7 separate regions of the Homo sapiens genome follow, and all the other regions are reported to be linked to region 1. Evidence: microRNA targets listed by miRTarBase, many of them from high-throughput screens and not tested one by one. Region 1 holds a microRNA gene; each other region holds the end of a gene's coding sequence.
The links. The annotated mature microRNA hsa-miR-202-3p reads AGAGGUAUAGGGCAUGGGAA and lies in region 1 at 1,430-1,449, shown strand. An mRNA with a match to its seed (bases 2 to 7 or 8) in the 3' UTR can be bound and repressed. Matches are read on the target gene's strand: a 7mer-m8 pairs with bases 2 to 8, a 7mer-A1 pairs with bases 2 to 7 and ends in A, and an 8mer does both.

Region 1 (4,079 bases):
TGTGGGTGCTGCGTCGGGTCAGTCCTGAGACTCTGGCCCTACAGATCACAGGTGCTGGGGCCAGGCGCCCGCACGGGCCTGCCTAGCGACGTTGAGTCTCCCCGAGGACATGGTCACTGAAGAGGCCTCTGAGGCCTCAGCCTTGTTCCTTCACCAGCCTCCACTTGCCTACGTCCTGGGGAGAGACCGCTGGCTGGGGTTCAGAAGCCCTGTCCCTGGCCACCTGTGGAAGCCCTGTGCCCTGGCCTCCTCTGGGCCTCTTCCTTGTGTCCTGAGCCTGGGACACAGGGACAGCCCCAGACCTGCAGGAGTTCTGCTGCCTGCCTGGGCCCTTCGGCCGGGGGCTCCCTGGCCCTAGGAGAGGGTGTCTGCCTGCCTGTGTGGTCTCGCTCTGTGTGGGCAGCTGTGGGTCTGGCCAGCTGTCCCTGAGGGGCCCTCTCCCTCCGACCCTGCACTCTTGCCCCCAAGGCTGCAGAGCGTGGCCCCTCTCCACGTGCTCGCGGGCTCTGTGGCCCGGGGAAGGCTCTGGGCCTCACTGGACCAGTGTCCGCCTGATGCCGTGAATCCTCAGGGAGCCCCAGCTGTGGAGGCCGCCCCAGGCCAAGCAGGGCCACCTACCCTGGGGGTGGGGTCTGGTTCCCAGTGGCCAGGACAGTGTTGGACACGCTGGCTGGGGGTTCTGAGAGTCCCTGTGAGCCAGGAGGCTGCGGGTGCAGCCCAAGGTGCTGCTTATTGCTGAGCTGGGCAGGCCCAGGAAGGAGAGTCGGCCCCTTCCCTGGACAAGCGATTCTTGCTCACGTGTGCTTTCCGGGCCCCTGACGCAAGCAGAAGCGCGTGGGGAGATAAGGGTTGGAGGAGGCGGGGGGACAGGCTGGCCCCATCCCAGCTCCCGGGCCAGCAGCCCCCGGCCCACAGCCCTCGCCGCCCGCCCGCCCGGCGGGCCCTGGCTCAGCACTCTTCTCACAGCAGGTCTTTGTGCCCCAATCTGGCAGGTGCGGGGGTGCGACGGGGTCCTTGGCACAGAGCAGCCCTCTGGTTGCATGTGACAGCGGCGGCCAAGGTCTCCCCTGCGCATAAATGTGGAGCTCGCTCGGCAGCAGCAGAACTCCCGGCTCAGAGAGTTCTCCACCGCTCCTCCCAGGCTCACGAGGCTCACGGGCTACCCAGCGCCAGCGGCCCAGGAGGCTGGACCACAGGTAAGACGAGGCCCAAGGCCTGCCTCTGGGAACTCGGCCCTGGCTTGGCTCTGCCCTCCTCACTCCCACAGGATCTCCGTGCCCACCAGGCCTCAGTCCCGACTTCTCCCTGCTGCCCGGCACGGGACCCTCCCCCAGGACAGCCACCTCCCAGTGCTGAAGAGCCGGCCCGCCTCAGAGCCGCCCGCCGTTCCTTTTTCCTATGCATATACTTCTTTGAGGATCTGGCCTAAAGAGGTATAGGGCATGGGAAAACGGGGCGGTCGGGTCCTCCCCAGCGGCACCTGCACCAGTGCACCTGCACCTGCTCCAGCAGCACCTGCCTCCTGACTTGGGACTCCACCTGCTTCCTTTCTCCTCGGCCGGGAGCCCCGGGGCTTTGACCCCCACATCCTTGGGGCAGAAAGGGGCCAAATATTCTAAAACAAGGGAAACGTGGATGTGTGCTTTTGTGTGGGTTCTGGAAGTGTCTGGGGAGGACGTGGTCCAGGCCTCTGCCCTGGGTTGATCTCTGCAGCCCCTGAGCTGGGACCCAGGATGCAGAGAGGAGGGCTGGAGCTGGGCGGTGCTCTGTGACCAGTCTGACCGGAGTTGGGGGTGGACCCATTACAGGAGGTGGCGGGAGGGACAACCTGGGCTCTGGGGCCGCCTGGTGGTCGGGGGAAGTGGGGCGGGGTGCCTGGGATCTGGGCTCTGGCTGGGAGGATCCACAACTCATTCTTTGGACATTTTCTTTGCAGACTACGAAGCTGCACCGTGTGGGGCCCACTTTTTATACAAGCGGGTGGCGGTGGATCCAGGCGCAGACGGGAGTGAGGCGTGGCGGAGACGCGTGCACGCTGGGTCTGTGCACTTTTGCTGCTGCTGCTTTTTTTTTTTTTTTTTTTTTTTGAGATGGAGTCTCGTTCTGTCACCCAGGCTGGAGTGCAGTGGCGCGATCTCGGCTCACTACAACCTCTGTCTCCCGGGTTTAAGCGACTTTCCTGTCTCAGCCTCCCAAGTAGCTGAAACGACAGGCGCCTGCCACCATACCCGGCTAATTTTTTTATTTTTAGTAGAGATAGGGTTTCACCTTGTTAGGCTGGTCTTGAACTCCTGACCTCATGATCCACCTCACTCGGCCTCCCAAAGTGCTGGGATTACAGGCGTGAGCCACAGCGCCCGGCTGGCTGTTGCTTCTTAACACCTTTATTACTTTTGTAATCATGGGTATGAGTTGATTTTCTGGTCAGAAATTTCAGTAGAGCTAATTTCATTTAAATGTGTGAGATGTGGTAAAGTTTTGACAATAAATACAAATTTTGACAAAGCAGCTCTGTCGTGCTGGTCTCCTCTCGTTCACGGTGGTTGGACGTCACATTAGTCACGTGTGGACTTGGGGGAACTTAGTTAAAAATGCATAAACACGGGGGGATGAAACGGCTCCTGGGGCCTCGGTTGGGGGCCTGGGCTGGGCACCGGTCTGGGGCCACCCTTCTGATGACCAGAGCCTGGGACCGGCCGGCAGTGTTGGGAGAGCCCAGAGGGACGGCTTGTGAGGGTGGGGGGCACTGGTCTGTCCTGGGCGGGGGCCCCGCAGCTTCCAGGCCTCCACAATGGCCAGGGTGGGACTGCGGTCTTGACTTCCCACTGAAGAAAAATGGACAGGGGGTCCCTCATCAGCCCTGTTTAAAGAATGACAGTCGGCTGCTGTCTTAAAAGGAGGCCTGAACGGGAGTCGGGGAGGCCCCACCCTTCAGCCAGAGTCCTCGTCAGCCGGCAGGGCCACGCCCAGGTCTTTGAAGGCCACAGCCTTTATCACCAATGAGCCCAGCAAATGGAGCAATGAGCTGGCTGAGAGGCCCCCAGGCCGGTTATCAGGGGCTGCCTCCCCAGGCTGCGCCTCCTCTCCAAGCCTAGCACTAATCTCATCTGATAGTCACCTCCCACCTCCCTCACAGCCCGCAGCTGGGGTGTCCGAGGGGAAAGATCAGGCAGCAGGCAGAGGGGTGGGGTGCTTCCGGCCGGGGGGCCGCAGGCCACATGTGGAAGGGCAGCCACGCCCCCCACCCCAACGAGCTCGGCTGCTCCCCCTGCCCCCTAGGGAACGGTGGAGGTCGGCCCTGCTGGGGAGTCTCTTGCAGGCCTTCGAGTCACTCTCCACAGGACACCTGAACATAGGGCTTTAAAGCTGCACAGATAAAGCAGGTATTACCTCGCTGTGCTGTGCGGACATGCAGCAGCAGCTGTTACTCCAGACAGTGTCGGCAGAATGGGGATGCAGGCACGGCTGGATCCAGGGAGCCAAAGGCTCTGCCTCACTCTGCGCTCGTACCCCGCCTGGCTCCGTCCCTCCGCCTCACTCTGCGCTCGTACCCTGCCCAGCTCTGTCCCTGCAAGGCTGCGGTGTAATTAACAGCACCTGCTGGGCTGTGAAAGGAGAGGCCCCACTCTCCAGTATGGTGCCCATTTCCCCAGAAGAGCTGTGGTTCTGAGGGCTATGCCCTCCCTGGGATCTGGGCTGGGTGAGCTGGGCCGTGTGCCCTCACCTGTACTGCAGGGTGGGCGGCTTGCTGGGCAGGGAGAGGGATGAATTCCCCCAGGAAGATGGGCAGGGCTCCTGCCAAGACCCCACCAAGGTGGCTGTCCAGGCTTGCCAAGACATGCCCACGTATCAGGTCCAGCCACTGAGACCCTGCTGAGGGCATTGGAAGGAGCACAGGGGCCAGGACGGGGCTGGAAGGCGTCCCAGAAACGGAGGCCTCCTGGCCACAGCCCCCCGGTCCTGAGGCCGTTGTCCTGTGAATGGTAGGTGGGGGCTGAGGGGCACCATGGGGGAGTGGCTCACTGTGGCTTCTGTGGACAGCCAGGCTGGGAATGAGGGTCCTCCTGGCCTGGGAACAA
Region 2 (4,000 bases), not on the chromosome of region 1:
TCCTCTCAACTCTCTTTTGCCCTCCTAGCTTGACCTACTGATGGCTGCACTCTTTTCTAAATAGTAACACATGCTCCAATGCATGCTTGAGTTTGTGCAGTATTCTTGTTTCTGAAAGTCAAGTTGTGACAATTAATGCTGTATCTAACCAAATGATCACAGCCTCCCTCTTCCCCATGGGAACTACAATCAAGAAGCATCTTCCAATTTCATGTACACTAAACCTAGGTGGCCACAAGCTTCATTTGGGCCATGAACTCCTTTGAAACCCTCATAAAAACTGTCCTACTATCTCCCTGGTAAATCGCACATACACAGAGTTTTGCCTTTCAGGACATATGGCCTTATAAGATTTTGACTACTAGTGACCAAAATGTTGATGTTTTTCAAAAATTACACAGAATTGTTAAGATGGAATAGTTTTATTCAGCAAACAAAAAACTTGCTAATTCAGAGTATCCTCTAGTCCACGTAATGTGGTTTAGACTACATTTGCAAAATTAGGGCCTTGACGCTGAACAAAATAAAATCCAGAGGAAGAACTACAGTATCCAATCAAAAAGGAAGTACTAGCAAATGAACCAGAATAAAAGACTTTATTGTATTCCATACATTCACAGGTCACTTCCAGATTTAGTAACAACACTGCAATGCTATGATGCTGTGCGGTCATTTAGCTTAAACCACAGTGTAAGTTGGTAGCTCTCTCCTGCTCTCTTGGCCTCTAGATGTATCACAATACAATTCCTAACTGTGGCCTGGCAACCAATGCTTATTTCATTGGATTATTTTCTGACTGGGACATGAGTTCATCGCATCTTCCCAGAATTTTAAAGTACCTTCCCTTACATTATAAGAGATGACCAAACACTCTAGTGTGAAGGCTGCTTCACACACTGTTCTTATCTATCATGATTGCTCTTCCTTACATACACGTCCCGTACAGATCAGCTACACACGGCATGGTCCTGAAACCACAGCTTTTGTTTCTTTGGCCAGAATGCACCCCTCACCTTGAGTGCCCGCCTTAGAAACACAGGTACTTGGTTCTCACAGGGTGTGCATGGTTGACACAAGTTCATCTGCCCCACGGTAAAAGCTCTTCAAAACCTTTGCATGACTTGTGGGGAGCAGGGTCACAATTTGTTGCATGTGACCTGCCTCAGCCTCAAAAGATAAGAGATCATGAGGCTCCACCGCCCCCGGGCTCAGGAAACTTGATCCACATCGCTAGGGCTCTGCCTGTTAGGTTATGGATGCTCACCTGACTCTCTGAAGCAGAGGGAGGCTGACACAGATTAGCTTTTATTGAAATTATTAAAGTGCAACTTTGTGTTTTCACTCTATCAGGCACTGAAAAGCAAGAAGCTTTTAATTTTTTCTTTTCTATAATGAAATATATTTTCTTTACTCTTATTTGTATCTGTAATACACCTGCAATTAGAAACAGCAGTTAAACATAAAACAAAGAACAGAGCAGAAGGCACAGTCTAAAGAGTGGGTATCAGAAGAATTTTACCATTTACGCTCATAGGAATACTAAACCAAACCCAATCAGACCAAACTCCAAAGCCCATTGTGTTTACAAGTCTGCCTCTTTTGTGTGATAGCAAGTCAGTCCTTTAAAGCAGAAACCCCATTTACTAACCCTACATCCCAAGTAAGCAGGCCTGTATCAGAACCAAACAGCTGTCCTCTTACATCAGAAAATCTAAGTGATCTGAAAGACAATTCATCACAAGTGTTTCCAATTTTCTTCTGAGAACATCACCAATCCCACTAATGCAAACTCAGAACATTACTTCAGTCAAATTTCGCTAAATGCTATAGCTTTCTTCAAATAAAAATTAGCCAGAAAAATACCTTAGAAAAGATTTTTTTTTTCATTGTGGATTCCAGGAGACTTTTAAGACATGGAATTCTCGGTGATTATATTCAAATGGCAGAGCCACATTTGCTAACAGTATTTTCTAATTTTATCTTTCTTATAAGAAAAAAAGGGTAAAAATCGGATCTGAAATACTGACAGGGTTCCCCAAAGTTAGATATTAACACAGCTTTTCATTTCTCTTATGAGAACTTTACTGTAAATATACCTTTATCATAGAAATGAGATATCCAATACACATTACAAAATGTCATATTTAAAGATGACAAATCTATTCTTAACCCAGATTCTTCATCCACAGAAGTTTAATGACTAAAATAACACAACAGAATGAACAAATGTTTTATTGGCATGTTCATTGTTGTAAACAGCATCTGGCATGAAAAAGTTTTACCAAAACCTTTTTTATTGATTTTTATAAATTAGATGGTATGTCAAAATTTATGTAGAATTGTGTTCATTGAGTACTTTTATTTAGCAAAGCAAAAACTTGCTGATACTAATAAACTCTGCAATGAAATCATGTTGACTGCATCAGTCTGTACCATGACCTGACCTCATTAGCAAGTTTATTCAGAACAATGTTAAGACGTTTCCCAAAAGTTAAACTACATGTAACTACAAATTGACTCTAAAAATTAAAACTGGACTTACAAGCATTCTAGAAGATTCAAACTTGAAGTAAATCTTCAAAACTAGATGTACAAAGAGAAAAAAATTGAAGCCGCTGAACAGAGAAACCTCATTAACAAGGGCAACGACAATCCTATGGGACCTAGCACTGAGGAACCTCACTGAGGATTACATTTACATAGATTGCTATACTTCTCAATGTACACAAATGTACAGAATGAATGATACGTGAAAAGAATAATCATGGCAGATAGTTGAACTGCAATTATGATAACTCAACAGGATCAATTTTATTTACATGCTGAATAAATGAATGAAACATATTCTCTACATCCATAACTTAAGTACAATCAGTTATAATTACAACACTGCAGCAATCTGAGCTGCCACCTGCTGGGATCGGTCTAAGGGAAACGTTCTGATGTTCCAGAATAATGTTCTTAATACTCTGCAAAAAATGAAACAAAATAAAAACACAACTTCACAATTCCTTACTGGGTTACGGCTGGTTCCAAGAATTTCTTTTCTTCAGCTCCTGTTTTTGCTGCTTTCCAAGAGTCAACACACGTTGGATTTACTTCTGAATTGTCAATGAGGTAATGTGTGCATCAGTGAAATAAACAGAAAATTCATTCATTCATGGCCTTTGCACAGCTTTTATTATTAAGCTATGAGCATCCTGTTTGAGGCTAGTTTTACTAGCGGCTATGTGCACATTTGTCCGCAATAAAAGAAGTTTACTCATTCCCCTGTCCCCTTTTCTAATAGAAGGTTAGCTTTTTTTGTTGTTTTTTTTTATTTTTTTGCACATCCCTTTTCACTTTACAGTACATTTGACTATAGTGCACAACATGATTCCGAGTCAAAACAGTGGCCCATTGGGCACTGAGCTTCTGATTGGTGTAGGGCAGTCCAATCAGTGCTGGTGTCACTGGGTTACCCCAACCATGTCCGGCCAAAATGGCACTACCCAGTGGTAGTGAACCATCTAATTAAAACCAAAACTCCCCCAGGGAAAATGCTACACTATCAGAGTCAGTCTTGAGTCAGATCTTTATTTGGTGCTCCATCCAGATATATTTTTAGTGCTTTCTCTTTACGAGGTGAGTATGTTACACGATGTCCAGTCTTCTGGAGTCGACTGCTTTCTTTTTTCATCAGTTCATTTCTTTGCTCATCTGTCAATTCCATTAATTCTTCTGTTTTATCCCTACATATAAAATATTAATCACATATTAGTCCAGTAGAGCCCTCCACCTCTATTAATGTATGCTTGAATGCTATGATGCTCCTCAGCAAGATAATGAAATCTGTTACTGGTGAAGTAATATTATTTTATATACTGAGATGTCCCAGATTTCTAAGGTGTTAATCACAGGAACATATTGCTTACTTCTAAAAGTGGCGGAGAATAACTTCCATGTTATTAGCAGTAGTAACAGCTATCATTATTGAACATCTATAATAGGCACTGTGCCA
Region 3 (4,064 bases), not on the chromosome of region 1:
TAGACCACATTCCATGTGACGTGCTTTTTTCTGAACATCTTTCCATCAGGATGCCTACATTCGAATCGTGGCATGATGTGAACAATCAGTTACTCCCATTAGATCTTGGTCTTCTTACCTATGGACTAGGGACAATACACCTGGCCCCACACTACCTTTGTATTGAAGTCTTTGGGAAGTAGGAAGTGCTCTACCAACAGGAGAAGTGCGATAATTACAGTAATTAACAGTTATATATATTGAAGTCTGCAGTCATGGGATGGGATGACTGATCAGACCTCTCTCACCCTCTGTTCTACAGCTGGTGGGTGCTGGTCAGCTACGGAGTCCTCTTGGTCACCCTGGGAGCCTTCATCTTCGGCCAGACCACAGCCAACGCCATCTTTGTGGATCTCTTGGCATAACCACTGCCTCCCAGGGAACACAAGGCCTTTGCCATTGGTCGCAGGAACCCATCTCTTAGAGCTATGGGGCCATTCTTAGTCCACGATCATTCCAACTGGTGGGATGACATCCGGACATCCTCTTCCAGGGACTGGGGCAAACTCAGGCCCCACACCTCTGGACAGCTCAAATCCAGTCCCCTTCCTGCTCCCCAGTCCTGGCAGTGCCGTGGATGGCGGCAGGAAGTCTCACATCATAGAGGACCCCTCCTCCTCTCCCAGTTCTCAACTTCTCCATGCCTGGAATCCACGGGTGAAGAGAGTCGGTAGATCTCATAAGAAAGAATCCAGTCTGACTTCCCTCTGGAGAATGACTATGGACAGAAGGCCACCATCCTCCACAGAGCACCCTGTCCTGAGTAGGGGTTGTGCTCATTACCCCAGGCCAGTGGTAGCTTCCTCAGGAGCCTGGCCACTTCCAACGGTAGCACTGAAGTCATGCAAATGCATAGTCAGGTAGATTCAGACCTTGTCCACACCTTCCTGGGCAACCCCCACCATGAACCTGTCAGCCTCTTTCCCATAGCTAATAGACATTTCCCAGGCCTTGAGGGGCCCCACCCTGTCTCTTTCATCAAACCTGATGGTCCAGGCTGGGCATCCCTCTCCTCCTCCATCCCCAGACATCACCAGGTCTAATGTTTACAAACGGTGCCAGCCCGGCTCTGAAGCCAAGGGCCGTCCCGTGCCACGGTGCTGTGAGTATTCCTCCGTTAGCTTTCCCCATAAGGTTGGGAGTATCTGCTTTTGTGTCTGAGATGGGCCCCTCTTTTCAGAGGCCGCAGGGTGGGTGATGGAGAAGGCTGAGAACCTTTCAGACCCTCTGTGTGGGCTGGGCTGGTCAGAATCAGGGTGTACCTCCCCGACACCTTCTTTTTCAGTGATGTTTTCTCTTCTTCCTGCCTTTCCTCTGCCTCCTCCCCTGCCAGCCCTAGCGTGACTACCCAGAGACAAAAAAAAAAAAAAAAAAAAAAGGCAGGGCTGGGCGCAGTGGCTCACGCCTGTAATCCCAGCACTTTGGGAGGCCAAGGCGGGCAGATGACTTGAGGTCAGGAGTTCGAGACCAGCCTGGCCAACACGGCAAAACCCCATCTCTACTAAAAATACAAAAAATTAACCGGGCATGGTGGCGGGCACCTGTAATCCCAGCTACTTGGGAGGCTGAGGCAGCAGAGCCGCTTAAACCCAGGAGGCAGAGACTGCAATGAGCTGAGATCGTGCCATTGCACTCCAGCTTGGGCAACAAGAGTGAAACTTCATCTCAAAAAAACAGAAACAAACAAAAAGGCAGCTGGGTTGTCACTGATGGGCAGCATTTGAGCCTGCCACACTGGCCTGGAAGTTTCCCTTCCAGTCTGGATTTTGTCTGCTCCTTCCTTCCCCCTCACCCCGTTACCTCTTCACCTCCCATCTCACTTCACTGTGTAGCTCAGTCTCTCCCACGCACATAATTGGGGACAGTGGGGGCTCTCTTACCAGCCTCCTCAGCAACGCACGTCCATCAGGCCTGGCCTCAGTGGCCAGCCACATTGATGTCACACTGGAATTGTTACCCCAGAGAGGGCGAAGAGATAGGCTATCTCCCCACCTCCCACCCTACTCCCCACTATATTCCCGTTTTGACCACCTCAGCCCCTCAGCTGCCCCCTCTCACTTTGGCCAATCCCAGGCACCAATCAGACTTCCTCCTCCACCTGGAGCCCCTAGCATTTCCTTGTCCCCTCTTCCCCAAAACCTCTGTAAAGGGTACGAGAGGGACCCCCTGCCGAGCCGCCCGCCACTCAGGGCAGTCCGATCTAAGAAGCAGAAGCTGGTTGGAGGCTGGCTGGGCCTCTGTCCAGTCCCCAGATGGATAAACTGCCTTTTCTCACATCCCCTCTTGGTGCCTGATCTTCTCTGCCCCCGGGGCCAGACCCACTGTGCTGTTTTCTGTCAGTCTGTGGCACAGCACCAAGCTCTGCCAGCACCAGTCCCTGACAGGGCTAGGAGGACAGCCTGGTCAGCAGGGCTGCAGTCCCCCAGTGCCGTGTTTCGGGGGTCAAGGGATGTAAGTGGAGTCATTGCACAGAGACAGACCAGTCAGGAGAAGGAGCTGGAATCTGGCCTCTTGTCCTAACCTCAGGAGCCCCCTCCCATCCTCTCCCCACCCTCCCTATCGGGGTACTTCACTGTTTCTTTTCTACTTGTGTATACTCGAGAAAGGGAAGATGGTTAATAAAAGGGATTTGTGCTGCTGAGCCGTGTCCCCTGTGTCTGATCCTGGGGACAGAGTCCAGGCCACTGCCAGGAGGAAGAAGGGCTGGGGTAGGAGGTGTAGATGGCATGTCACTGTCTCTGACCCCTATCTCCGGAATGGCACCGCCATGCTCCCTCTACCAAGCAGGGACCTGCAAGTGGCTCTTGCCACCCCTGCTTTCTTCCACATTCTACCTATCCTTCTCCAGTGACTTAGGAATGTATCGCAGTCTCCAATCCTGCGACCTCTGCCTTCACTTAAGCCCTCACTGTCTTTCCTGTGCCTTTGTGGTCTCAGACTGTCCCCCTGACTTCAGATCTTGGCAAGAGCTTTAAACTCCTGAGTATCCACCCCCATCTTTTCAGAGGCGAGCGTTGAGCAGGTCCCAGCTGTCTTGGTTATGGAGCCACCAGTCACCACGCTCAGTGCTGGCAAGAAAACCAGCAAAGGCCAGGTGTAGTGGCTCACGTCTGTAATCCCAGCACTTTGGGAGAACAGGGTGGGCAGATCACCTGAGGTCAGAAGTGCGAGACAAGTCTGGCCAACATGCTGAAACCCTGTCTCTACTAAAAATACAAAAATTAGCTGGGCATGGCGGCGCATGCCTGTAATCCTAGCTACTTGGGAGACTAAGACAGGATAATTGCTTGAACCCAGGAGGCAGAGGTTACAGTGAGCCGAGATCACGCCATTGCACTCCAGCCTGGGCAACAAGAGTGAAACTCTATCTTAAAAAAAAAAAAAAAAAAAAAAAAAACCAGCAAAACAGACTCCAGTACTGCTCTCAGCCTAGTTGTGGGAAGACTGATGCTAAGCAAGCAATGACACAAATATACACTTCCAAATTGTGGTTAAGTGCCAAGGAAGGAAAATACAGTGTGTTAGTCTGGGGGCTGGAAAGTTGTCTGGGGAGTCAAGGAAGACTTCCTGGAGGAAGTGATGTTTGAGCTGGCCTGTGACTGATGAGTAGGAATTAGTAAAGAGAGGTGGGGAGACTTTGCCAAGCAATGGAAACTGCATGTGCGAAGGCCTTGAGCTGGGAGGAACATGACTTCAGGAACTGAAAAGTGGCCAAGGTAGCCAGACATTGACTGTGTGTTGGGAGGTTCTTAAATGACTCCCTCTTGCCTTTAGGGTCAAGTCTAACCAACTCATCTCTCACCACACTTCCCCTCTCCGCTCCAGCCACACTCAAGTGAAGGTCAGGCTCCAACTCCTAGTAAAAGTGGGGGACTGACCCTGCAAGGAAGAAATACTTCAGAAAGGCTCGAAGGGTAGGGTGGCTTTGGGCTTTGGGCCTGACTAGGGAGCGAATAACGAGGTTGAGTTTAACCGTCTCTCAACAGAAGGAAGGAAAGGATGCGTCTACGCCACAGGCGTACTCC
Region 4 (4,079 bases), not on the chromosome of region 1:
TAGGGTAGCCTTTTTTTTTTTTTTTTGAGATAGAGCCTTGCTCTGTGGCTCAGGCTGGATTGCAGTGGCATGATTTCAGCTCACTGCAACCTCCACCTCCCAGGCTCAAGCAATTCTCCTGCCCCAGCCTCTTGAGTAGCTGGGACTATAGGTGTGCACCATCACACCCAGCTAATTTTTGTATTTTTAGTAGAGATGGGGTTTCACCATGTTGGCCAGGCTGGTCTGGAACTCCTAACCTCAGGTGATCCACTCACCTTGGCTTCCCAAAGTGCTGGGATTATAGGCGTGAGCCACCATGCCCGGCCTAGGGTAGCTTTTAACATGCATTCCTGTCACACAGAGGTAGGAAAGTTGAACATTATATTTCCCAACCTCCTTTGCAGCTAGGGTTTCAGATATGATTGGTCCAGTCCATCAGATTCACTCACTTGAGACTTTTACTCAGAGCCAAGTAACGTGGGGACAGAGGCAGGAAGAGATGTATCTATTTTTGCTGGCATAAAGCATGGCAGAGGTGGTGTGGCTCTGGAACTGGCAACTGTTCAGCAGGCAGCTTCCTAATCCAGCAGGCAGCTTCTTGATTGTTCTAAAAGCAGCAGCTCTTTCAGCAGCCTACTCTTGTGACATAATTCCTAGAAGCTCAGCCTAGATCTGTTTCTTCAACCCTCCCATTGATTCTGTGACCTATATATACTCATTCATCAATTCCCTTCTGTTTAATAGCTAAAGAAGATTTCATTGCTTACAGCCAAGAATCTTGACCTATACAGAATTTGGCAGCTAGAAGTAAAGCACAGCAAGTCGAAGGCCCTAAATCTGGGGTTGGCTTAGTTGAGGAGGTAGGGCTTTGGGCAGTGAGACTTCTTGCCAACAGAAGTCAAGGTGAGGTTGAGACTTCCTGCCACAGAGACGAAGGTGGTAGAACTTCAGAGTGCTAGCATGTGTTGGCTGCTTCTTGCCTCTTTTCAGCAAAGCCCTACAAGAGATATGTGACTTGGACTAAGATTAACAAGTCTGCAGTGACGCAAGGGAAAAATAGCTTTGCTGAGAGAATTGCTCTTTGTCTACCATATAAATTGACCAAGTCCCAAATCTGGAGCCCTGAAGAATTGAAAACTGTACTCCAAACTGAAACATTTATAAGTAAAGGCTCTGAGGGAGCTACTAAAACTTTCTCAACCTTTTTTAAGAACCTTCCCTTAAGAATTTTCTGCCAAATAATAGGAGCCATCCTAGGGGAAGAGATCAGATTAAGACTGTTGCCATTCCATGCAAGCCTACAGTCTCAAAGGATCTCAAGGAGGTACCATTCCTGTAAGAACAAAGGGGATGGAGAGCACACAGAGGCCAGCAAGTAAATGATGAGGTTCTTTGTTAAAAACAATGTATTTTACCTTGGTTAATACTGTCCATGTAAATGACTGAAGACAACAGACCAGAAACTTACTAAAGTTTTAGGAATCCACTTGGCCAAGAAACAGAACAAAACAACAACAAAAACCCAAACCTGGCCTGCAATAGACTGTAGCTGTTACGGATCTATACTCTAATTCCCAAGCCTGCCCCCAGACTCACAATTATAGGAAGTAAACTGCTAAGGCTGCCCAGCCTCCAAGAAGGGTATACTTTCCAATGCCCATTCAGATTGTGTCTGAAAATTAATGTACAATAAAAACCTCCAAGAAAGTAAAACCAAGGCCCCCTGAGGACATTAGGTAAAGGAATTCCTCTCAGAAAGGTGAATCAGGGGTTGCCTGATAGGCAAACCAAGGAATATATTCATGAACTATAGCAGAGAGATTTAATTATTTTTGCCAAGTGGTACTTTCAAATTGCTATGGATCAGTGGCCACTATATTTCTATTTCTCCCTTTTTCTAAAAGGTCAATTTTAGGGATCTTGGGCATGGTGGCTCACACCAGTGATCCCAGTGCTTTGGGAGGCTGAGGTGAGAAGATTGCTTGAGACCAGGAGTTTAAGACCAGCCTGAGCAACATAGCAATACTCCATCTCTACAAAAAAAAATGTTTAGCCAGGCGTTCGTGGCATGTGCCTGTAGTCCTAGCTACTAGGGGGACTGAGGTGGAAGGATCACTTGAGCCCAGAAGTTCAAGGCTGCAGTAAGCTATGATCACACCACTGTACTCTAGACTGGACAACAGAGTAAGACCCTGTCTCTAAAAAATTTAAAAGGTCAGTTTTCCTGCACCTTTGCATTATGCATCTGGTGCTCTCAGGGCAGAAAACTTGTCTTTCAGTTTGTAGGTGGCCAGAACACAAGGAGCCACACCCTAACATGATGGAGGGGACTGTCTCCAGATAGCATGGTCTTTCATCTAGTATGCAATAATGGGCTGGATTTCTGGTGGTTTCTCTTCAGGGAGAGAGGGGTGAGTGTTTTCTCTCTCGGAAGAAGAAGGTACACAGAATTTAGGTAGCCAACAAGGCTGGCTGAGTTTAAAATCCAAAGTTGCCTACCAAACATTCCCTCTTCCCTTCTTCCTTAGTAAAAGAATCCAACTTTTAGCTGGTCACATTGCCACATTGACTTCTCAGCCTCCCTAGCAGCTAGGTGTGGCCATCAGTGTGACCCAGTTCTGGTCGAAACATAAGTTCAGGTGCTGCTGGTTCTGGAAAATGGCCTCAGGGAAGCTAACTCAAGCAGAGAAAGTCCAGTTTTCTTGCCTTCCCCACTGCCTCCAGGAGCAAACTTGAACAGTGAGAGTGAGGTAATCTGAGGATAAAAATCATGCACTGAGGATAGCAGAGCAGAAAGATAGGAACCTGGACACCACCTACTTCTAGACTTATGTAAGAAGAAAAACTCCTATTTAGTTTAAACCACTGTTATCTTTGTTTTTTCTGTTATATGTAACATAACCTAATCTTAAATGATAAAGTATAGAGCAAAATAAAAAAGAATGAAAAATGACCTGAAGTGGTAGCAAAAGTGATTCAGGTGAAGAATTTCTAGCAGTTGAGGTTGCCAAAACTAGAAAAACGTTACCAGGAAACACAGGGAAATACTGTGGCCTTTCCAGAATTGTTAATATCAAACAGACATTTATTGAAAGAAGGAATGATAAGCACCCATAAAAGAATACCTATGTTTACGAGTAAGTGAGAGCAATCTAATTTAAAAGCAAGAGGCAGAGTTTTCTCACTTAAATAGTTCCTAATAGTTTCACTAAATTATGGCATAAAGCCACTTAATTAAATCATTAAAGGAGAACAAAAAAATAAATAAAAGAGCCGTGTGAATGTGAGAGCAGAGAGCAGACAGTGAGTTTGTTTTCTTCCTGGTTCTGATAAACTTCAATCCTTTAATATCTGTGTCCCAAAAAAAGTGTTTTCATTTAAAAAGTATCTCCCTTTATTTCAAATATGCTTTTAAAATATTTATTGAGCAGAGAAAAAGGAAGGGAGCTAAAAAGATGAAATAGATGTTGAGTTAACAGCTTTCTTCCAAGTTCTGGTGGACTTCAGACTTTAAATGTCTGTTGGAAAAAAGAAAAAAGTTCTTATTTTAAAAGTATCTTCCTTTATTCTAAATGTTCCTTCATATACAAATATACTTGTTTTAAAAAATATGCTTAGCTAATCATAGATCACAATTTTAAAAAACATATTCTCTGGTAAGATTAATATAATTAGAAAGAATTACAAATAAAGTTGAAATAAATCATTTTACCATAAATATGGTTATCAAATTATACAAATGATACAGCACTTAAAATTTGCTGCTACATAAAACTTTTGGAGGCATTTTCATTTTTCTATAATCTAAATTGCTCTAATACCACAAAAAATACACAAAAAATAACATAACATCTTAATGATTTGAAATTATATTTGTAATAAATGTGGATTTCAATTGATAAAATAATTTATTTTCCTAAATAAATAATCAAACAAAATTACACACGTGGCTCAAACTTCAATTCTCCAGCTGGCCCTGATGGAGGAATTCCTTGTTGTAATTTTTTTTGTTCCATCTGCTGTATGACCTGGTGAATGGAAAATGAAAGTTAAAAGTATAACTTGATTTTCTATCATATGTGTGACCTTTGACAAAG
Region 5 (4,073 bases), not on the chromosome of region 1:
CATCCCTATCTAGGAGATGTTCCATATTTTCCTCTAAAAGGAGAGTTTTCTCCTCATGAAACAAACCTTTATCTCTAGCATTGAGTTGTTGTGTTATATTCTTTCCACCCTTCCACTTTTAACTTTCTTGATAAAAGAAATGTTTAATTGGCCTGGCACGATGGCTCACGCCTGTAATCCCAGCACTTTGGGAGGCCAAGGCAGGCGGATCACCTGAGATTGGGTGTTCAAGACCAGCCTGACAAACATGGAGAAACCCCATCTCTACTAAAAATACAAAATTACCTGGGCGTGGTGGCGCATGCCTGTAATCCCAGCTACTCGGGAGGCTGAGGCAGAAAAATCACTTAAATCACTTTAACACGGGAGGCGGAGGTTGCGGTGAGCTGAGATCGCGCCATTGCACTCCAGCCTGGGCAACAAGAGCGAAACTCCGTCTCAAAAAAAAAAAAAAAAAAAAACAAGGAATGTGTAATTGCTGTTTTCTTCCCTCTTCGTATGTATGTAGGGGGAATGAGGGCTGAGTAGTTCACACTTAATTTAGTAGAAATGAGAATCTTAACTTCTGATTAACCCCAATTCTTCTATAACAGTGTTTCTGAATTTTTAATGGGAAATATGTTCTTCTTCAATTCATTGCTATCTCTACTTTCAGGATGGCAAGCTTACCAAGGAGGAGATCGTTGACAAGTATGACTTATTTGTTGGCAGCCAGGCCACAGATTTTGGGGAGGCCTTAGTACGGCATGATGAGTTCTGAGCTACGGAGGAACCCTCATTTCCTCAAAAGTAATTTATTTTTACAGCTTCTGGTTTCACATGAAATTGTTTGCGCTACTGAGACTGTTACTACAAACTTTTTAAGACATGAAAAGGCGTAATGAAAACCATCCCGTCCCCATTCCTCCTCCTCTCTGAGGGACTGGAGGGAAGCCGTGCTTCTGAGGAACAACTCTAATTAGTACACTTGTGTTTGTAGATTTACACTTTGTATTATGTATTAACATGGCGTGTTTATTTTTGTATTTTTCTCTGGTTGGGAGTATGATATGAAGGATCAAGATCCTCAACTCACACATGTAGACAAACATTAGCTCTTTACTCTTTCTCAACCCCTTTTATGATTTTAATAATTCTCACTTAACTAATTTTGTAAGCCTGAGATCAATAAGAAATGTTCAGGAGAGAGGAAAGAAAAAAAATATATGCTCCACAATTTATATTTAGAGAGAGAACACTTAGTCTTGCCTGTCAAAAAGTCCAACATTTCATAGGTAGTAGGGGCCACATATTACATTCAGTTGCTATAGGTCCAGCAACTGAACCTGCCATTACCTGGGCAAGGAAAGATCCCTTTGCTCTAGGAAAGCTTGGCCCAAATTGATTTTCTTCTTTTTCCCCCTGTAGGACTGACTGTTGGCTAATTTTGTCAAGCACAGCTGTGGTGGGAAGAGTTAGGGCCAGTGTCTTGAAAATCAATCAAGTAGTGAATGTGATCTCTTTGCAGAGCTATAGATAGAAACAGCTGGAAAACTAAAGGAAAAATACAAGTGTTTTCGGGGCATACATTTTTTTTCTGGGTGTGCATCTGTTGAAATGCTCAAGACTTAATTATTTGCCTTTTGAAATCACTGTAAATGCCCCCATCCGGTTCCTCTTCTTCCCAGGTGTGCCAAGGAATTAATCTTGGTTTCACTACAATTAAAATTCACTCCTTTCCAATCATGTCATTGAAAGTGCCTTTAACGAAAGAAATGGTCACTGAATGGGAATTCTCTTAAGAAACCCTGAGATTAAAAAAAGACTATTTGGATAACTTATAGGAAAGCCTAGAACCTCCCAGTAGAGTGGGGATTTTTTTCTTCTTCCCTTTCTCTTTTGGACAATAGTTAAATTAGCAGTATTAGTTATGAGTTTGGTTGCAGTGTTCTTATCTTGTGGGCTGATTTCCAAAAACCACATGCTGCTGAATTTACCAGGGATCCTCATACCTCACAATGCAAACCACTTACTACCAGGCCTTTTTCTGTGTCCACTGGAGAGCTTGAGCTCACACTCAAAGATCAGAGGACCTACAGAGAGGGCTCTTTGGTTTGAGGACCATGGCTTACCTTTCCTGCCTTTGACCCATCACACCCCATTTCCTCCTCTTTCCCTCTCCCCGCTGCCAAAAAAAAAAAAAAAGGAAACGTTTATCATGAATCAACAGGGTTTCAGTCCTTATCAAAGAGAGATGTGGAAAGAGCTAAAGAAACCACCCTTTGTTCCCAACTCCACTTTACCCATATTTTATGCAACACAAACACTGTCCTTTTGGGTCCCTTTCTTACAGATGGACCTCTTGAGAAGAATTATCGTATTCCACGTTTTTAGCCCTCAGGTTACCAAGATAAATATATGTATATATAACCTTTATTATTGCTATATCTTTGTGGATAATACATTCAGGTGGTGCTGGGTGATTTATTATAATCTGAACCTAGGTATATCCTTTGGTCTTCCACAGTCATGTTGAGGTGGGCTCCCTGGTATGGTAAAAAGCCAGGTATAATGTAACTTCACCCCAGCCTTTGTACTAAGCTCTTGATAGTGGATATACTCTTTTAAGTTTAGCCCCAATATAGGGTAATGGAAATTTCCTGCCCTCTGGGTTCCCCATTTTTACTATTAAGAAGACCAGTGATAATTTAATAATGCCACCAACTCTGGCTTAGTTAAGTGAGAGTGTGAACTGTGTGGCAAGAGAGCCTCACACCTCACTAGGTGCAGAGAGCCCAGGCCTTATGTTAAAATCATGCACTTGAAAAGCAAACCTTAATCTGCAAAGACAGCAGCAAGCATTATACGGTCATCTTGAATGATCCCTTTGAAATTTTTTTTTTGTTTGTTTGTTTAAATCAAGCCTGAGGCTGGTGAACAGTAGCTACACACCCATATTGTGTGTTCTGTGAATGCTAGCTCTCTTGAATTTGGATATTGGTTATTTTTTATAGAGTGTAAACCAAGTTTTATATTCTGCAATGCGAACAGGTACCTATCTGTTTCTAAATAAAACTGTTTACATTCATTATGGGGTATGTATGACCTTCATTTTCCAAGAAATAGAACTCTAGCTTAGAATTATGGATGCTCTAAAATGTCAGAATGGGAACTCTCCTCGAAGTTCTCCCAAACTCAGAGACAGCACTGCCTTCTCCTAAATGATTATTCTTTTCTCCCTGTTTTCTGGTATTTTCTAGCATCCTTCTCACCACAGCCATAACCCTTTTTTACTTCCATTAGGCCGTATAACTGGAGAGACCTGCTGCTCGTTATATAATTATCTGATACCAAACACAAGCGATTCTGAATGTACACACACGTTTATCTATAGAGCATAAGGTAAAACAATTTTGTTTAACATTTTGGTATTGTTTACAAATGTTATTAAAACATGCAAATTCATTTTGAGAACCTCGAGAGAATTAAACTATTAACTTTAGTAAACACACAGTTTAAGACAAATATAAAGGTTTAGCCAAATGCAACGGGGAGGAAGCACCTGGAATAATTTGTGCTTGCTCAGGGGCTTGTGGACATGGCTGTTCCTGCCAAAGCTGTAGCAGTTATCCAAAAGTTCTTTCAAACTCATATTTGGGGCCACTGAGTTTTTTTTGTTTTTTTTTTTGTTTTGTTTTGTTTTTTCTTTATGTCTCTCCCATTTCTAAAGTGTTTTCTTAAGTTTGTTCTAATTCAGCATATATCATCTCAGAATGGATCCCCAGCAGGAAAAAAAAAAAAAGTTACTAAAAAGGAAAGTATCCATACACTGAAAACTTAAAGCATATTCCTTTTTGGTTGCCTTGTATGTAGAAATCAGTTCTCCAAGTGCTGTGAATGGTGCCACTTAGGAGTAGAAACTGATGATTGTTGAAATGGCCTTTGGGTGGTCTGAAATAGACCAGTGGAAACAGTAGCTTTGTAGGCAAGAAGGCAATAGTAAGAAAATGAAAAATTGACTCCCCAAACTGCCATCACTCCTTTTACCATCTTTTTTGTGTTTTTAGTAGTTTGGTTTCTGACGGAGACAATAG
Region 6 (4,070 bases), not on the chromosome of region 1:
GGGCAGGGACCAGTGTTTTTGGTATGGCATACCTAGTACCTAATAACAGTACCTGGTACATCATTTCTGATAAATATTTGCTTTAATATTTTTTCAGCACCATGTATTTTTTCCTTGCTGTTCAAGTGCGTGTGTTTTTTTGTTTTTAGATGTTTTTTCTGTAGACTAATATTTTCAATGCAAATCTACTTTAAAAACCTAGAGTTTTCTACAGCTTGTTCAATTCCATAAAGAAAACATTGTTTCGATTTTACTTTAGGAAGAAGTTTACAAATGGAAGTTACTTTTACTTAATAATTCAAAATAGTCAAAGGAATAAATTACCATACCATTTTTGTACAATTGAATAGATTTCACTTTAATTTGGAACTATTCTATTGGTTATATAGTCTGCCTATGTCTCTGTAAAGTGTACCTAGTATAATACTGGAAGAATGATTTCAATCTTAGGAAAGTTTTGAATAACTGGCACTATAACATTCTATTGTGAAAAATGTTTTTTAGTCTTATTTATTGTGTATTAGAATGAGAAACCAGAAGCACTGCTATGGGTTTGTCATATGTTTTTTTTAACAAGGGAAGTTTAAAGATCTTTTTTGTTTTATTGTTGTAGGTTGCAAGACAACAGACAGTTCAGAGGCAGGGACAACAGATGGGGGTGGCCAAGTGACAATCGATCCAATCAGTGGCATGGACGATCCTGGGGTAACAACTACCCGCAACACAGACAAGAACCTTACTATCCCCAGCAATATGGACATTATGGTTACAACCAGCGGCCTCCTTACGGTTACTACTGATAGAAATGTTGGCAGCTTTTAGTAAAAGCATTTACTCTGTTACCATGAGAAAAGTTTGGGTGTCTTCTGTTGGTCATAGTTTTACATCTGATTTTACAGAATGGATTATTGATTTTTTGGAAGTTGAGACTTTAAAAAAAATAGATCTTACTTGCGAAATGCGATGGTTGCTGGGAATACCTGAAACTGTGGATTATATTGCTTGACTTCTACCTCAGAATCTTCTTTGTTTCATGACTTAATAGTGCTTTAAGTTTGGTATATTATTTGACCTCTAGGAATTCTTTGTTTTACACAGAAATAAAAATTTTAAAATAGAAAATGCTTTTACTTTGTAAGGTAAGAGAGTATCCATATGCTTAGATGTGCTCGTTTCTAAAATTCTAGAGGTTGATATAATCAGCTCATGAATGCACAGCTATGCTTTTTGTGATAGATTGTACATAACATCAGCAGTTGAAAGGTAAAACAATTGCTTTTTTTTTTTTTTGCATTTGTTAAGTGACTATGGTACTTTGTGATTCCTTAATCTATAGATGAGTCAGCTCCACACTTGAGTCTCTTTTTAGAGGGAAATCAGTAATAAAGCTGTAAAATAAGGAAGGAATCATTGTCAGTTTGTGTCTTGATCTGGTGGTGGTTGGGATAAGGGTACACATCATTTTATACAAACACTAAAGCTTTTTGCTAACAACATAGCAGGTCAAAATTCACACATAAGAAAGTTTAACTCTGTACTGTTCACACTTTTTAATCCTGTAAATAATGCTGCATTTTGATGGTTCTTACTTTTTTGGTATTTAATGTGGGCTGATTTTACAATGTTATATTCACTTCCAGATGCATACCTCTGCTGCTTTCTCTCCTATAAATAGTGATGCTATAAACTTCCTTTCACAGAGATCATTCTATTTCAAATCACTTTAATGATTATTACAATGATTTCATTCAAATAAAAATTTTAAAATATTTAAGCATCTTCACTCCCAAGTTCTGGCAGTTAGCCCATTTATTAATATGGTGAAATGAGATTTTTGGGTTTTTTTATGCTGTCCTTCATATCTGTTGAAAAGGGCTTATTTGGTTTAACAGTAACATTAAGAGTGCAAATTTCAACATAGGTCAAAGGAATTAACAGGCACCTTCCTGACTTTATTAGAGTGACAAAAAAATATATATATTTAAAAAGGCGTCTTCCAGCCAGGCATGGTGGCTCATGCCTGTAGTCCCAGCACTTTGGGAGGCTGTGGGCGGATCACTTGGGGTCAGGAGTTCGAGACCAGCCTGACCAACATGATGAGACCCCGTCTCTACTAAAAATACAAAAATTAGCCGGGTGTGGTGGCACATGCCTGTAATCCCAGCTACTCGGGAGGCTGAGGCAGGACAATTGTTTGAAGCCCAGAGGCGGAAGTTGCAGTGAGCCAAGATCGTGCCACTGCACTCCAGCCTGGGCAACAGAGCAAGACTTCATCTCATAAAAAAAACGGGGGCATCTTCGTAAACCTATTTTTAATGCCTTCTCTCTTAGCACCCCACTCTAGGCCCTCGAGGTTGACTTCTCCAGGTACTTCATGCTCTCCATCTACCTCTCCCTTTTATTCTCCCTTCCTGAAGAGCCATCCTCTCGGGTAACTGTTTTATTGGAAATGACCTAATAAGTCGGGCAGTCACACTAAGATGCAAATACAATTTTAATAGTAAGGGTTTTCCCTGTAACCTCCCTAATTACATCAGTAGGCAAGAAGCCAGTGCTGTTATATAAAGATAGGATTTGATACTACAGATATTTAGTCTAGATAGTAATGTCCTGACTACACCCCAGAATCTTCTCTGAAAGCAGAAGTGTTATCAAAAATATCACCTGGTTGGGTATGGTGGCTCACACCTGTTATCCCAGCACTCTGGGAGGCCGAGGCGGGAAGATCACTTGAAGCCAGGAGTTCGAGGCCAGCCTGGGCAATGTAGCAAGATCCTGTCTCTACAGAAAATTTTAAAATTAGCTGGGTGTGGTGGTGCACGCCTGTAGTCCTAGCTACTCAGGAGGCTGAGGCAGGAGGCTCCCTTGAGTCCGGGAAGAGTTCAAGACTACAGTGAGCTAGGATCATGGCACTGTACTCCAGTTTGGGCTAGATAGATGCTGTCTCTTAAAAGTAATGATTTATAGGCTGGGCACGGTGGCTCACAGTTGTAATCGCAGCACTTTGGGGGGCTGAGATGGGCAGATCACCCCAGGTGAGGAGTTCGAGACCAGCCTGGCCAATATGGTGAAATCCTGTCTCTATTAAAAATACGAAAATTAGCCAGGCATGGTGGCGGATGCCTGTAATCCCAGTTACTCGGGAGACTGAGTTAAGAGAATCACTTGAACCTGGGAGGTGGAGGTGGCAGTGACCTGAGACCATGCCATTGCACTCCAGCCTGGGCAACAAGAGCGAAACTCTCTCAAAGAAAAAAAAAAAGATTTATAAAATCATCTCCTGAGAAAGCACAGGCACTGACCAGTAGTTGGGACAGTATAGCTGACTGTAGCTTTAGGTCAGGATTCTGTGCTGTGCCAGCTGTTGACACAAAGGGAGATGTATGGGTCCAAGGCCAGCGCTGGAGGAGTACTTCTCAGGAAGCTCAGAAGAGAGGTGGTTTTCCAACAGTATTTAAATGTTTTAACACCCAACACAGCTAGGCTGCTTGTGTCCTGAGTATCAGCCGTGCTTGAAAAAATGGGAGGAAACCTTTTAACATGAGTAAATTCTGCATGCTGCATGAATAATCTATGTTGTTATGGTTTTTGTTTTTTAACAGCAGTTACTATCAGACTGTACCCCTGCCCCTGATCTGCTTAAAACCAGGAAGAAATAAAAGGTACAGTTTCTGCTTCATAAGACAGAAAATAACATGAAAAAAAGCTTAAAGATAATTTAAGAGTGAGAGCAAATAAAATAGTGTCAAATAGAATTAATTTCAAGTAGTCTGTTGTAATAACATATGGCATTAGGTATAAGGAATCCTAGCTTCCAGTTCTGTGCTTAAAACATATGTGACCGTGAGAAAATCATGTAAACACTGAGCTTATTGGCTCAGCTGTAAAAATGGGGACAATACCCACCCTGCCACCCTCACAGAATTATAAAAATAAATAATCAAAGGAAGAACTTGAGAATATAGAGTTGTGACCATTAAATCCCTAGTAGGACACAATAGGTGCTGCATAAACATTTGTTGAATCAACGGGAGGGAAGTATTTGGTAAATTGTAAAGCGTAGTGTTGAC
Region 7 (4,079 bases), not on the chromosome of region 1:
TTCTTTTCTCCTTTTCCTTCCATTCCATATGGCTATTTTTTTTTTTTTTTTTTTTTGGGAGAGGATTGCCTGGCAGTGTCCCAATTCTAAGTGACAAGGAGAACCCTGACCCTGTAAGTTCTTTAACAAAATGGAGATAATTTTTATTTTTGATTTGAAGATACTATGAAATAGGGAGCACCGCAAAAACAAAGTTGCTTAACATTCTTGAATCTAAACTGACATGACGGGACGTTTATTAACGGCCGATCTCAGAGGTGGATTTTTGCCTTTGTAGTGGCATTCATGCTTCTTGCTATTAAATGGTCACAGAACTATCTTAGAAGATTTATGTAGACTCCCAAAGCAAACTGACTGTCTCCTAACTGTAGTGGAAATTTAGTATGTCCAATCATCAACTTTCTGTAAGAAAAAAGGGAAATGTCTGGATCTGTGGACAGTGGGTTCTGAACTGCATGAGAACCCTGGTGAAACGTTTTGCTGTCCCAGCTGCAGGCCAAACACTGCTCTCTCACTGTAGCTGATAACTCACTACCCCGAGAGGCACAGTGACTCATCAACTTTCAGTTTGGACCAACATCTATGGATAGAGAACAAAAAGGAAATACATAACTTATATCTCACTAAGTATTCATGAACCAAAAATAAATTCTATTTCTATGTTATATTTACACAATTAGAAAAATCTAAAATGAGATGGTAAAGTCATATAAACTTTGTTTAAGCCCCACTGAAAATAAAATGAATTGATCCCTATGATTGTCATTCTTAATTTCCATGGATATTTAGAGCCAAACTTGGCTAATAAATAAACTGCTTATACACAAAATTTAGATTCAAATACAGCATTACTGTTTGATCCAATGAAAAAGACGTTTACAATCAGATCATTCCTGAATAGCCTTTCATTTTTAAGAACATGGCTAAAAGTAAATGAACCCCAGTACTGAGGCAGAGCTGGAGCTAAAACAAAGTGTTCATACACACATGTATTTTGCATAAATAAATGAAATAACAAGACATAAAAATGACTCAAATCCGGCAACTGTGAGGCAAGCCCACACGAGTCGAAACAGATGACTTTTGTTCATGTAGTTTTCGTACAACAGTTTCACATTAGTCAGAAGTGATAAAAAATACCATTTATATCCAGTGCTTATAACACTTACGAAACAACATCTGTGAGTGTGTGTGTTTTTTGTTTTTTTTTACTTACTATGAGCAAAATCAAGTTTCAGTCCTAAAGAACAGTCCTTTGTTCTCCACCAGCCCAGAATATTATTTTGGCATGGTCATAAAAACAAACAAAATTAACCTACTATGCTAAATGTTTGCTTTTGTGCAAAATTAATTACATACAATACAATGCTAGCCATACAACACTCTACCAATGCAACAAAATAAGAAAGAAGTGAGAGAGAGCAAAAGCAAAAGCCAAAGAGAAAGAAAAAAAACAAGAGTGAACTGAGGAGGAGAGGTATATAATCAAAGAAATCAGTAAGACAATAATAAATACTCATTTTTTGAGAGAAAAAATGACCTCCTCCTCATTTGAAATAAATGTACAAAAACAAATTTCTAATCCCCAACCAACATGAATAACAAAGAGTTCCTATCAGTACCTTAATCAGCTTATAGAGAGCACTCCCAGCTAACAGAATAGCTTGTAATTTCTTGGCTAGACCTGTTTATTGCTATTAGGCCTTGAGCACTCTTAAATAAATACAAAGGTACACTATTTTCTTCCAAGTGACAAAATGGCTCAAGAAATCTGATGGGGCCATTCCTATGTCCTGGTGATCAGATTCTGGGTTGTCCCATGAGGTGAACTATCCCATTCACTGACATTCTCCCACTAAACCTCTCTGGGGGAAGCCCCCCGATAGACAACCTGTCCTAGTTTCAGGAAGGCCAAAATGACATGGCAGAGCTCCCTGTAGTTAGGAGATGGGGAATAAAACCTCACTGCTTCCCACCCCAGTAGCATGTCTTCAAAGAAATCCTTGTGTGATAAGTGCAGTTCATTTTGTTCACACGTAGGCAGGTCCCCATGTGGCTACAGATAGAGTCAGCCAGAGGAACTCATCTGCTGCCCCCGGAGCTATCTGTTCCCCAGAGTTAACAGTAGGAACATCCCATATAGGGAATGTATTCCCCTCCTTCTCCTCCCTTACAGTTTTCTTTCATTCTCTAGATGTATCATGACTATTTGCCACCATCTTTGCTCTGAGGCTGTCATGTGGCTTTTTGCATCCTGGGGATTTTGCAATGAACTCCCTAGATGTGCCAGCTGGGACAAGGCAACTCAGTGTAAAGGTGCCAGCCCATGACAGCTTCACTGAGATTCCTGCATGGCCCACGAGCCTTGGGCTTCAGGTTTGGCCGCAGGACTCTCCTGCCTGGCAGTCACCACTGTTGAACCTTGCTGCTGAATGGAATTCAGGGGGAAATGCCACTGATGCAGACCCTACCACTTGTGAACTGAATTAGGGGAAAATTCTGGCAAAAGACTTGAGGTCACAGTGAACCTCAGGGGCATACCTGTTTAAGTGTAAGACTATATACCTATATCCCAATACACAGCCCTGCAGCCAGATACATACTCATGATTAAAAACAATAATAGGTTTTTAATAATATCTTGGTTTCAGAAATGCTTCCAGGCGTTCTGGGGACATAAAATCACTATGTACACAGGAGAAGGAGGTGAAAAGGACGGAAAAGTTCTTCGGGGAAGGAAGGTGAAAAACAAGAATTATTAAATTAATGCCACCAACAATTGAAAAAAAATAAATAGCAAGTGGACCCTTGACATTCTGGAATGAATAAATTATTTAAGATAAAATGTGTTAAGACTGAATGTCAGGGTTAAAGGCAAAGGGATAATGGATGTAGTGAGAGGTGGTCTCAGGCAGAGAAGACCACTCTGTCGATATCTGGTGTGGCGGTTGCTCTGGTGTGTGTATGTCATACCACATCACGCACTGATGGCACGTCAACAGGCAAACACAATTGGGTCCATGCACTGTGGCAACCTTGTTCATTCCTTACAATATCTTGTCTCCAGATTCCTGAGTACCTTACCATTTTCTGGAAAAAAAAATGTTGGTTTGCTATTTTATTTTAAGATGCCAAAGATTGTCTAAGACTTTGCAGTGTCTCCTTTAAGACTTTCAAAATATTAAGATTCAAAAGTTACGAAAAAGTTTGGCACATTCAAAGTTTAACTCTACAAATGGAAAATTGGAATTCCGAGGCCTTTTGAATATGCTCTACATGCAGCTGCACACGCCGTGGACTTGTTCTGTTTCACAATATGAAATCCTCAGTTGTTTTCTAAAATAATTCAGAATAAAAACACATTCACAACCTGTAGGCCGGCACAGCATACCTGAGTGAGAATGTTTAACCCCATCTAAAACAGTAACTTAAACCTTTATCAACATCCAAAAGAAAAAAAAAGTAAGACAAAAATATAAGACTTGTAAGACATCTACGGGTTGAGATAAGTTTCAAGTCCTGGTGTCTCATATTTAATATGTCTTCACCTAAATTAAAAAAACAACAACAACAACAATAACAATAACAACAAAAAACTCAAGTTCATGAAAAATCAGGGAAAACTTAATCTGTCTCACACTTTACGAAACAATTAAGACCATTCTGCTGATGTAATTGTGGAGCCACAAATGCATGCGGGCTCTTTAATAACTCTTTGTTGGGGAGGGGGGTGAAATGTCAGAGTACTTTAATTCAGCAAACAAAAACTCCTCAGTTGGCACTGACAGCCTCCGGGGCTTCATTTTCACTGCTATAGTCTGATTTGGGGTCATCTTCATAGTCATCATACATTTCCATTTCATCCTCTCCATTGATCATTTCATTTCCAGCTAGGCTTCCGCCATCTGTCTTCATACCATAAGTGCTCTGGATGACCGGGAGGCTGGGCTCCGGGCTGGCCGAGGTGCTAGAGCAGTCAGATGTCATCTGAGGCGATGGTGTGGTAGTTGCCATAGTGATAGCACCAGGATACACAACACCTGTTCCTGTGGTGATTGGAATCTGAGGCTGTTGCCTATA

Region 2: miRTarBase lists USP47 as a target of hsa-miR-202-3p. Seed matches in the 3' UTR shown: 7mer-A1 at 3,114-3,120.
Region 3: the mRNA of SLC38A7 is a reported target of hsa-miR-202-3p. The part of its 3' UTR that is shown has no 7-base or 8-base seed match.
Region 4: the mRNA of NUCB2 is a reported target of hsa-miR-202-3p. Seed matches in the 3' UTR shown: 7mer-A1 at 2,729-2,735.
Region 5: the mRNA of CALU is a reported target of hsa-miR-202-3p. Seed matches in the 3' UTR shown: 8mer at 1,988-1,995.
Region 6: miRTarBase lists RAMAC as a target of hsa-miR-202-3p. Seed matches in the 3' UTR shown: 7mer-A1 at 1,011-1,017 and 7mer-m8 at 1,645-1,651.
Region 7: the mRNA of SOX6 is a reported target of hsa-miR-202-3p. Seed matches in the 3' UTR shown: 7mer-m8 at 1,475-1,481.

The regions. Positions count from the first base shown.
Region 1 is chr10:133,244,908-133,248,986 of GRCh38, reverse strand. MIR202 (microRNA 202) reads left to right here and starts at 1,367; the gene lies at 1,367-1,476. MIR202HG (MIR202 host gene) reads left to right here and starts at 1,102. Exons shown (of 2, transcript NR_108079.1): 1 at 1,102-1,196; 2 at 1,937-2,508. RefSeq lists enhancers at 180-694, 1,211-1,725, 3,294-4,079, 3,478-4,079 and a silencer at 1,811-1,930.
Region 2 is chr11:11,955,732-11,959,731 of GRCh38, reverse strand. It overlaps USP47 (ubiquitin specific peptidase 47), which reads right to left. Exons shown (of 28, transcript NM_001282659.2): 28 at 1-3,731. The coding sequence ends at 3,557. Among named protein-coding and RNA genes, the nearest start is that of DKK3, 51 kb to the left of the region's middle.
Region 3 is chr16:58,663,725-58,667,788 of GRCh38, reverse strand. SLC38A7 (solute carrier family 38 member 7) reads left to right here. Exons shown (of 12, transcript NM_018231.3): 12 at 302-2,680. The coding sequence ends at 404. Among named protein-coding and RNA genes, the nearest start is that of SLC38A7, 19 kb to the left of the region's middle.
Region 4 is chr11:17,330,833-17,334,911 of GRCh38, reverse strand. NUCB2 (nucleobindin 2) reads right to left here. Exons shown (of 14, transcript NM_005013.4): 13 at 3,929-4,010; 14 at 2,701-3,500. The coding sequence ends at 3,493. Among named protein-coding and RNA genes, the nearest start is that of NCR3LG1, 19 kb to the left of the region's middle.
Region 5 is chr7:128,768,408-128,772,480 of GRCh38, forward strand. CALU (calumenin) reads left to right here. Exons shown (of 7, transcript NM_001219.5): 7 at 656-4,073. The coding sequence ends at 760. Among named protein-coding and RNA genes, the nearest start is that of OPN1SW, 5.4 kb to the right of the region's middle.
Region 6 is chr15:82,989,268-82,993,337 of GRCh38, forward strand. RAMAC (RNA guanine-7 methyltransferase activating subunit) reads left to right here. Exons shown (of 4, transcript NM_031452.4): 4 at 614-1,790. The coding sequence ends at 800. It also overlaps a transcript of C15orf40 not described here. Among named protein-coding and RNA genes, the nearest start is that of RAMAC, 5.1 kb to the left of the region's middle.
Region 7 is chr11:15,969,039-15,973,117 of GRCh38, forward strand. SOX6 (SRY-box transcription factor 6) reads right to left here. Exons shown (of 16, transcript NM_001367873.1): 16 at 1-4,074. The coding sequence ends at 3,771. MIR6073 (microRNA 6073) reads right to left here and starts at 583; the gene lies at 495-583.